Regions from separate parts of the Homo sapiens genome. Here region 2 is linked to region 1. A link means that fine-mapping ties the variant in region 1 to the expression of a gene that starts in the linked region. Tissue or cell type: tibial artery. Region 1 holds a variant in brackets; the other region holds the start of a gene. All regions are shown on one strand. Distances are between the middles of the regions. Region 1 has its middle 83 kb from the start of ANKRD50. Region 2 holds the start of ANKRD50 (ankyrin repeat domain containing 50).

Region 1 (5,389 bases):
AATCTGGGTTTTAGGGTTCCCATCACCCAAATAATATACATTGTACCCATTAAGTAATTTCTCATTGGTCTCCCCGCTTTCAATGTACCTTTTTATCTTTTTCTGGTTTAAAGACCATCTCCTGGATAGACAGCATTTTAAGAAGTCTGAACACTAAGTAAGTCCTCAAAAGGCTAACAATACACATCTTAGCCCACAAAGTTCCCTTCTAGCCCACTTGATCCTAAAGATCTTCCTTTAAGAAGCTATTTTAATTAGGTGAAGTTATTTCAATGTTTTACTTCTCTATTCAGGATACTAAGAAATAGTTTCTAATAATTTGATAGTATAGTTCAAGCAAAGCACTAGAGAAATTAGAAAAGTAAAAAAGGGAATTAATTAAGTTGGGTAGAGAGTTCCTAAAGGGGTGGGGTTTAAAATGATTCCAGCAAAACAGGGAGAAAAATAGGAGAGTGCTTCCTTGTAGGAAAAATAGGATGGACTCTAAGAAAAATATTTTCAAATGTAATGGCAAAATAACATGAACTCAGACCTCATTTAAAACTGGAAAGTATGACTAATTTTAGCAAACAGTTTAGAAATTTTAAAACCTACTTCTTTACTGAACATTTAAAATATTTATTCTAGTTCATGTAGGAAAAAAGGAATTTTTGAATGTGAATTTCTTTTTTAGTTTTAGATGACACAATTCCAATCAGTAAGAAGAAATCATCGTTGATTAAAACTGACAGAAATAGAAGTCGGAATTATATATGTATGATATATGAACTGTAATCATGTTTTACCAAGTGAATGCTAAATCACCCAGTATATTTCAAAGCAGTTTTTTTTACATATGGTATATCATTTGCAATAAACAGGCTGATATACAAATTTTCCCAGATGGTATGTGTGTGGAAATGATCTCAGTGGTATGTTATTCTTATAATTATCTTTCTTGAAAGGAAACTAAATACAAAAGATAGGCAAGTTAGCATAAGTCTACATACTCGGACCAACAAGAAACTTGGCTTTGGACAAACAAGAATTTTAGTTAAAATTTCAAAATATAATTAACTGTTGGCCCTCTATTTCTTCCAGCTATGCTGACAAATTGTCATCATATATAGATACAAGACTATTCTAGGATGTATTGCTTATCCTATTGCTTCACGTCCTCACTACTCTACTCTTCTCAGAAAAACTTGCTCATATAATCACATGATGAGACTCCAGGATCTATTAAAAGTATATGTTTGTTGATTGTTAATATATTTACATTTCAAGAGACTACACGGGATACCTCAAAAAACAAAAGGGTCATAGATACAAAAAGACCCAAGTTTCAGTCATGGCTCCATCAGTTACTACTTTTAGCTGCTCATACAATATGTGAGGACACATACAACTTTGAGACCAGAGTGGTAAAATGGAGATAAAATTACCTGTTGTAATTATTAAAAGTATTTGTAAAACAAACACTACAATAGGATCATTGACATAACTGACACACGATAAACATTAGTTACCATTTCATAAAGAAAGAGTTGTTTAAATGGTTTACTTTTAAAAAATAATATTAGTATTTCCCATCATCCAAATTTCAGGTTGGAAATCAAAGGGTTTTTTTTTAAAGCTTTCTTTTATTTATCCATAAACAATAAAACTCAAGGTAAATAAAACTCAATACACACGCACAGGACCCCACACAGCCTACCTTCATTTATGACTTCAGGACACTCAGCACATATTCCAATGACATTGACATTTACAAATAACTGAGAATTCTTATTTGAAATTTTCTTCACAGTATTCTTTTTTTGAAAATTTTTAATGGTGTTACAATGAAATCCTACACATTTCATGAGTGAGATTTTTTATAAGAAATTTATGGAAATAATTTAGCAAAAAAAGTAGAAACAAATTTGATGAAAATATTAGTCATACTAATTTTGTTAAATGCAAAGTATCTAATTTAATAAAATTGAGCTAAAATGGAATATAAATTCACTTCATTTATTGACTATATTGGTATGTCTTTTTTTAACCATATGAAATCATGTTAAATGTATTTACTTTTACAAAAGAACAAATCTAATGATATGAAATTTATTTCATAAATCATAGTTAATATAGACACATCTAAGGATGTGTTATAAATATACTAATTGGAAGATGTAAATAATTCATGCCTCAGTCTTACATTTGGGCTTTTATTGGGAGTGTCTTCAGTCTTTGAAAACCCCCTAATTTTAAGTATATGCTTGTATGATAGTAATGGTTGTAGCCAAGTAAGGCAGATGATAGAAGAGGTAAAACACAGTTGTTGGGACCATATTGGGGAAAAGTCTTCTTATAAACTTAAGAGGGAATTATTTGCAGTCAGCTTCAACAATTATTTATGGAGCATCTGCTCAGTGTTCAGAACTGTGCTATTTGGCACTATTTTTCTTT[C/G]TAAATTTGGATATTCCAGTTAAAAATCCTTAACTGTCAAGGAGAAATATTTAGCCTTTGCTTGGGACGGTTGAGTCATTGCTAAATTGCTTGAAATGGGATTTAAACACAAGGATAGTTTTATTTCTGCTAAATCTCTACTTTAAAAATTAGTCAATTATCAATTTTTAAAAGCTCCTTCACTCCTATTTGAAAATTACAAAACTACAGCAAATAAGTCAAATATTTCGAGAGCTTGATTTGCAAGATGTTCAGAATAATAACTTTTAAATATTTAATTAAATGCTTTTTAGATAGTAAGGACAGAGATCACATCTTTGTAATGCATCCTGAATACCTTGAAAGTAATACCTGGTACAAAAATAAAGGCATTTAATAAATATTTCTTGAAAAGATCTGAACTTACCAACAACTCAGAATGAGTTTGAAATAAATGACAATTTTATGAAAAGAGAATACTGCTTTCTAGATAATTATTTTAAATTGAGGAGACAGAGGGAATAATAGAAATACCAATTGTATCTAGAATACTGTGAATATGCTAGAAAAGATCATATATACACACAAAAAAAGAAATATTTCTTTTTCCCATTTGCTGAAGGACGCTTTCGAGAAAAGCATTTCCTCTTCATCTGAATGCCTTTACAATATATTTATTATAGAATAGGGCTTGGGAAATAGTGAGTTTTTTGGAAACAGTTTGGTTTGCTTTTTATGAAATATTTCATAAGTTGTGCTTTGAAAAAAATACCACAGACATTGTTTTGACATAATTCAGTGAAGATCTGGACAGACTTATGTAACTCTATTATTATTATTCAATAATTTCCAAGGAGGGAACACATTTGTATTTTCATATTGATACAATTTTAGATATAGAAGAGGGTGCAGCACCCACAATGTAAAAAGAAGATTGTGTCAACGGCTAGCAAATCACTACACTTAATAAGGGTGACCAAAGCTGACCGAGTAATAAATGTACTGGGAAAATCAAAACACAGATGGCTTCCTTTTGTGTTCTTTTATCAGAGAGGAAAAAAGCATCTTTTACAATGGGCCATAACTGATTCACCTAGAGATTAGGCTCTCATGAAGGCAATTATGCTTTTGGAGCTTTAATCACTCAGTGGCATGAGGAACATTCTGTATCACTCCCTTAAAATGAAGGGACCACCTATCATTTCTGTACCATATAACGGAAAATGAGACTAAAGTATAAAAGACAAACAAGTCAAATAATATTTCTCCTTTAAAAAAGGTAGCACATTAAAAAGCACCATATTTCTTTTTTAAGTTCTGGAATACATGTACAGGATGTGCAGATTTGTTACGCAGGTAAATATGTGCCATGGTGGTTTGCTGCACCTATTGACCCATCACCTAGGTACTTAATCGCAGCATGCATTAGCTCTTTTCCCTAATGTTCTCCCTACCTTGCCGCCCAGACAACATGACAGGTCCCAGTGTGTGTTGTTCCCCTCCCTGTGTCCATGTGTTCTTATTGATCAGATCCCACATATAAGTGAGAAAATGTGCTGTTTGAGTTTCTGTTCCTGTGTTAGTTTGCTGAGAATAACGGCTTCCAGCTCCATCCATGTCCTTGCATAGGATATAATCTCATTCCTTTTTATGGCTGCATAGAATTCCATGGTGTATATGTACCATATTTTCTTTATTCAGTCTTCCATTGATGGGAATTTGGGCTGATTCCTTATCTTTGCTGTTGTGAATAGTGCTGCAATGAACATATGTGTGCGTGTATCTTTAGAGTAATATATTCCTTTGGGTATATACCCAGTAATGAGATTGCTGGGTCAAATGACATTTCTGGTTCTAGGTCTTTGAGGAATCACCACAATGCCTTCCATAGTGGTTGAACTAATTTATATAACCACCACCAATGTAAAAGTGTTCCTATTTCTTCACAGCTTCACCAGCATGTGTTGTTTCTTGACTTTTTAATGATCACCATTCTGACTCATGTGAGATGGTATCTCATTGTGGTTTTGATTGGCTTTTCTCTAATGATCAGTGATGTTGAGCTTTTTTTTTGTATGTTTGTTGGCCACATAAATGTCTTCTTTTGAGAAGTGTGTGTTCATGTATTTGGCCTACTTTTTAATGGGGTTGTTTTTTTCTTGTCAATTTATTTAAGTTTCTTGTAGATTCTGGATATTAGACCTTTGTCAGATGGATACATTGCAAAACTTTTCTCCCATTCTCTAGGTTTCTGTTCACTTTGATGATGGTTTATTTTGCTACTTCCACACAATAATAGTGGGAGACTTAAACACCCCACTGTCAATATGAGACAGATAGTCAAGACAGAAAATTAACAAAAATATTCAGGACCTAAACTCAGCACTGGATCAAGTGACCTGCTAGCTATGTAGAGAAGTCTCTATGCAAAAACAACAGAGTATACATTCTTCTCGGCTCCACATGATACTTACTCTAAAATCAATCACATAATTGGAAGTAAAACAGTCTTCAGCAAATGCAAAAGAACTTAAATCATAAAAGTCTCTCAGTCCACAGCACAATCAAATTAGATCTCAAGATGAACAAACTCACTCAAAATCACAAAACTACATGGAAATTGAACAACCTGCTCCTGAATGACTCCTGGGAAAATAATAAAATTAAGACAGAAATCAAGAAGTTCTTTGAAACCAATGAGAACAAGGAAACCCAGAATCTCTGGGACACAGCTAAAACAGTACTAAGAGGGAAATTTATAGCACTAAATGCCCACGTCAAAAAGCTAGAAAGATCTCAAATTAACATCCTAATATCACAACTAAAAGAACTAGAGAACCAAGAGCAAACAAATCCCAAAGCTAGCAAAAGACAAGAAATAATCAAGATCAGAGTAGAACTGAAGGAGATAGAGACATGAAAAACCAAAGTTTTTTAAAAAAACTCAATGAATCCAGGAGCTGGTTTTTTGAAAAAG
Region 2 (5,389 bases), 83 kb after region 1:
AATCCTGGGCTTGGTAGTAACCAGAGAAACTCTCAAGGCTGCTGATCCTGCTAGACACGTGGCATAGCAGTTCAGTGTGCCCTGGCTTGCTGCAGCTGCCTTCCACGTGCAAGAAGCCACTTCTGAGAATCAGTAGTAAATGGAGAAAATTACATGTGAGGTATATCTGAAATATGTGAAATAGAGACTGACTTATCCTGTAGTAGAGTATAGCAAGTAGGCTGAACTCTTTTTGTATAATGCAGAGTTCTTTAAATTTGTGGCATAACCTGAAAGACTGCCAAGCATAAAACATCACTTTGTAAATAAACCTGAGTGACTTACACAAGTTAATTTAGAGGACTAAAATGAGTCCTCTAAATTTTCACAGCCTTTCATGTAAAATCATTAGAACTCTAAAGTCATAGATTTCAAATTTTGTAGCTTTCAGGTATTGCTATAATTATTACAGAACTTGCAAATATAAAGAAATTCAAATTTACCTCTACCAAACAAGGAACTGAATGTACTCGATGATGAAAACACAGACATTATAAAAGACGTAATTTTTGAAACTTAGAATTGTGCTTTGGAATATCTCAACTTGTGGAATCTTTTGATGGAGCTGTTGCTTTTAATTGGATGAAACTATATTTTGTATCTAAATGGATTAAAATTGAGATGACATAATTTTGTAGTATTTAAACTTGATTGATACCATCAAAATAAACGTACATTTTCAAGACTTATATAATGAGCTTTGTTTTGTAAAAACACTTGTTGCACAATATAACTGAGTGAGGTTTAAAAAAATACAACAGCTAGGAAAAGATTTGAACTGAAAAATTTGTACATTTCAATATAGAGAAATTAGAATGGAGAATATATTTTATTTAGCAGAGTGTGTTTTGAGCTTAATACGTATCTCACCACTTAATTTTCCATTTAAAACATTATAGTCTTCAGAGAAGCATTCGTTAAAGCTGTCAGTAATTTCAAATTTATGTGAAACTGTGATGATTTCAGGAAATTTTATGAACAAATTAAAAATAAGAAAGGCCACATTGAAAAAAATTGCATTCTTTGGAAAAATGCGAGTATCTGGTATTGGAGAAAATACAACTAAGAAACTGATTAAAGTATGTGAATATGTACCAAGAGTAAGTATTCTGCTTATGCCACGTTTAACATTTAGGTAATTGATAAAAAGAAGTTTCATAAAATTATATATGTGTGTATATATACATATACGTCACTGTTAAGGGTTTTCTATTAAAAAAAGCAAAAAGCAATAAAAATAAAATGTGAAATAAATTTTAAAGCAAAAAACAAAATTCTAAATAGGTCTGAAGATTAATTACAGCTTAGTTACAGCTGATGTTATTTAAAACAGCATTCCATGATACTGCTTAGTTATCATAAATGAGGCCCACTAAACAAAAAGTTTCGGTAACTTCTCTACTGGGCAGAAATTATTTTAATTATTGTGTTAGCAAACGGCTTAATAGAAATGATAATGTGATATACATTATTTCTCATTTAAATTTTCCTCTAAACATAAAATTTTACAACCATGAAACTGAAGGAGTCAACCTGTTCAATGACTATAAAGCTGCGTGGCAAACAAGCTAAGTGGGAATTAAAACAGCTTAGGCAAAAATAAATAAAAATTGTAGCTTTTTAAAAATCAATTTTCATCCCCCTAATTCTGGAGAATTTATACTCTGCCTCTTTTGCTTGTGTTTTAGGAAAGAAGCCCAAAATTCAGGGTACATGAATTAAAATTAAATACTAAGATCAGTAAACCTCAATTGGCACGAATAAACAATATGAAAGAGTAAGCACAAACACGATCTATTTGTTTATCCATCTTTCTTATTGTGATAGCTATACTATGAAATTTCTAAAACTAGATGGGAGACTGGCTTAATATTTTGGCAAATAACCACATGCAAGTTAATGAGGAATGGGAAATAGAGCACTCTGGATTTTAGCATAAACAATTAAAATAAAAAATGCTACATTTCCTATTCCATCAGTTGACGGTATACTTATTTTCCCGGGAGAAATTTGGAATCTAAGCAACTCAGGTCCAGTAAGTGCAAACAACTGACATGCTTAGTCCAACAGGCCCCTGTGAGCAGGCCCTCTAGGGCATTTCCTGACGCCACATGACCAAGACCTTCCCCCCTAGTGGACGCTGCGGGTGATCAAGTGGCCCTGAGGAGCAGGGGCCTGAGACCCAGTCAAGCCTGCTGTCAACCTCCATCTGATGGAGGCCACGTCCTTTTCATGAGGCTGGTAGGAATGTCGCTGTATACCCCCACTATTTCTATTTTCGCAACATTCTTCCCAGTCTTTTCCTTCCTTCTCTTCGTCCCAGCCAAAGTAAAAGCATCCCTGGAATTTAATGGACTGAAAGGAGACCGGACGACTGAGGGGTAGAACGGGGCCCGAAGTGGCTTTGGAAGCAACGGGGTTAAGGGAGAGGCAAAAGGGTTGAGCAGAGAGAGGCAAGAGGCAATCTCCCCCTACCCAACTGCCCCTCCCAGGAGCAGATACGGCACCAACAGCCGGCGAGTCCCTCCGGCCTGGAAGACAAAGGAAGGATCAGGGCCCAGTGGTGACGGGGAGGGTGGGGGCAACGACTCGCGTGAGCTCGGAGACGTGAGAACGCAGCCCCCGCCCCGTTCTCCGCCTCCCCTGAGAAAGGCGGGGCCCCCACGCCGCCCCGAGACAGGTCTCCCCGCCGCGCCGGCAGCGGGTCCCAGGCGGCCGCACACGCCCAGGCACGGGATGCTGCGGGAGAGCGCGGTGGGGGAGGGGAAGGACGCGGAGGCGGAGCCGGCGGGCAAAGAAAGGCCGAGCGGCGGGGCGGGGGCGGGGGCGGGGGCGGGGTCTGGGCTGGGCGGGCGGGGCGGAGCCGGCCGGCCGGGGGCTGCCTGAGACAGTTACTGCCCTGACGGCGGCGGCGGCGGCGGTTGGCCGGTGGGGGCTGGGGCGAGCACGACCGATTCTGCTGGGAAAGCTGGAACTGGCAGCCGCCGGGGGCCAAGAGGAGGATCCGGAGCTGGGAGCGTGCCCCGGGCCCGGCGGAGGAGGCGGCTGCAGTTGGAGTGGAGTCTTGGGAGCGCTGCTGGCAGCGACTTCTCAGCGAAGCAAGTGTCTGAGACTGAGAGTCCCTAACAGCGGCAGCGGCGGCCACGGCGGCGGCTGGGGCCGAGGTAACCGGGGGGCGGCGGCGGCGGTGGAAGCGAGGCCCCTCCCTCGGGTTGGAAGCTGGGAGGCCGAGGCCGTGGCTTGGACCTGACCCAACCACCCACCCTCTCCGGCCTCGAGCCCCAGATTTGCCCTCTTCCCTCGCACCGCCGTCGGCCGGGTGGGAGCGGGAGCGGGGCATGGGGCGGGAGCGCAGAGGCGGAAGCCGACCGGGAGGCGACCCCTCGTCTGGGATTGGCAAGGACCTCAGTCACCCCCTCCCCCTTCAAAAGACACACCCCAATCTCGGTGCGGGGCGGGGTGCAGAGGCGCTCCCAGCCTCTGGAAGGGCAGACCTCGGTGTGGAGGCTGCACCTTCGCTCGTGGCCTCTCTGAGGTGGCTCCCCTGTGGCTCCTCTGGGCGGTTCCAACCCAAGGTGGTGCCCGGCGCTGGGAATCCCGGAGTTCCTTTTGTCTGTCAGCTGAAACTGGAGGCCGGACCTGTGGGCAGACACCCACCAGCACCGAAGCACTCTACTCTTTATCCCTTTCCTGTCTTGGAAGGAATTTCTCTCTAGCAGCCTTTTCTCCGGCCAGACTGGTAGATTTTATCCCTGACCTCCATCCTTGGCCCAGAGGAAGGAAGGATTCACATTTTACTTGTGTTTGCTTTATCATTCTTATAAGAACAGTCATCCCCCATCGTTTTTGTTTTTTTTTTTTAAACCGTTTCCCATCCAGCTGCAACCCTGGTAATCTTCCCCTAGATTTTTGCACATTATCAACAAAGAAGTGTGGCTGGAGGAGTAGACAGTCCTTGACTGACTGGACTGTGTAAGTTAATAGAGCTTCCTTAGCTGGCGCTGTTCTACCAGTCTACTGTGAATGAGCGTTTTGCCTGGAGTTAAGGGTGTTACTGTATGTGCGTAAAGTTTCTCCCCCCCTCCTTTGCTATGGTGAAGTTGCAAAAATCTTGGGTAACTTGATTAAAATGTGGCTGTTTGGGAAGCATAACAATGAGGAAGAAAAATGCAGAAGGGAGAATGTGATTATTTCAGTGGTTTTTGTCCAACTTTTTGAAAGTGCCAAAGGTGAAGTACGTGGATTTTTGAGATTACGTTAACTGGTACACTGCAACCTTTATTGTCCTTAATAAGTTTTTAACATATGATATTTTGCACTGAGGTATTTTTGTTTGTTTTATTTTAGTTACTTGTGGAAATTGTTGATTACCCGGACGTCTTAAAACCAAGAAACCTGTGAACAGGTTCATTAAGAATCTGCTGTCTTGAAAAATGCATATTATGAATGCTTTGAATTAAGAAGGTGTTAACAGTGGTTGTCATTTCTGCCACATAAGAGACTATAATCTGAAACAGTTCCTGGCAGTTGCCCAGATGCCTGAAACTGGCACGATCTAGTACTCTTGAGTGATCATCCTTCAACGAGAAATACAGAGCTACTTACATACTGTACCTCATACCGTATAAATGTAATCTCTCTGATGCCATTTAATGCAGTGGACCTCTTTTCAGAATCTAATTGTCAGATGCAGAATTAACACTTGGAATCTGGAGAAGCATTTTGTACAAATTGAAAGATTGGGTTTTTTCTTTAGTTTTCCACATGTATTGTCTCATCTCTGTTCTTGAAACATCCACAATCACATAAACTCCAGTTATAACCATGGAGTTATGTGACTCATTAAAATTTAGGAAAAGTGTTGCTGAGCTGTGGAATCAGGCGTTTCTCCCTCAGTTCAACAACTAATACATAGACTGCTGATCAAGAATAAGGAACCAAATAAAGTCATGCACGTTCTGTTGACAGAGGAACTCTGTGGCTGTTGAATTTTACTGTAACTAGTTACTCTGTCTTCAGAGTCAACTTAATATACAAGTTATGTCATAATGGATGGAAAGACCTGTGTTGATGTATCCAGACTCTAGCAAATGAAGATAAAAAACCCGTTATGACTAATCCTTGGGAAGAGAAAGTCTGCAAAATGGCTCAAACCAGTTTACTGCAAGGGAAGCAGTTTTACTGTAGGGAGTGGGTTTTCCACAAGCTTCAGCATTGCCTCCAGGAGAAAAGTAACTGCTGCAATAGTGCTGTCAATGCACCATCACTTGTAATGAATTCTGGGAATAATGCTAGTGGTGTCTCTGGAAAGGGAGCTGCCTGGGGTGTGTTGTTGGTAGGAGGGCCTGGC

What was found.
Region 2: ANKRD50 starts here. The variant in region 1 is fine-mapped to the expression of ANKRD50 in tibial artery (GTEx, PIP above 0.99). The same link has a PIP of 0.9 or more in coronary artery and subcutaneous fat.

What each region holds. Positions count from the first base shown.
Region 1 is chr4:124,792,931-124,798,319 of GRCh38, reverse strand. No RefSeq gene overlaps it. Among named protein-coding and RNA genes, the nearest start is that of ANKRD50, 83 kb to the right of the region's middle. The variant C/G (reference allele first, on the strand shown) is at 2,434.
Region 2 is chr4:124,710,272-124,715,660 of GRCh38, reverse strand. ANKRD50 (ankyrin repeat domain containing 50) reads left to right here and starts at 2,929. Exons shown (of 5, transcript NM_020337.3): 1 at 2,929-3,203; 2 at 4,387-5,389. The coding sequence starts at 5,150. RefSeq lists enhancers at 2,390-2,955, 2,956-3,521 and silencers at 2,673-3,052, 3,203-3,442.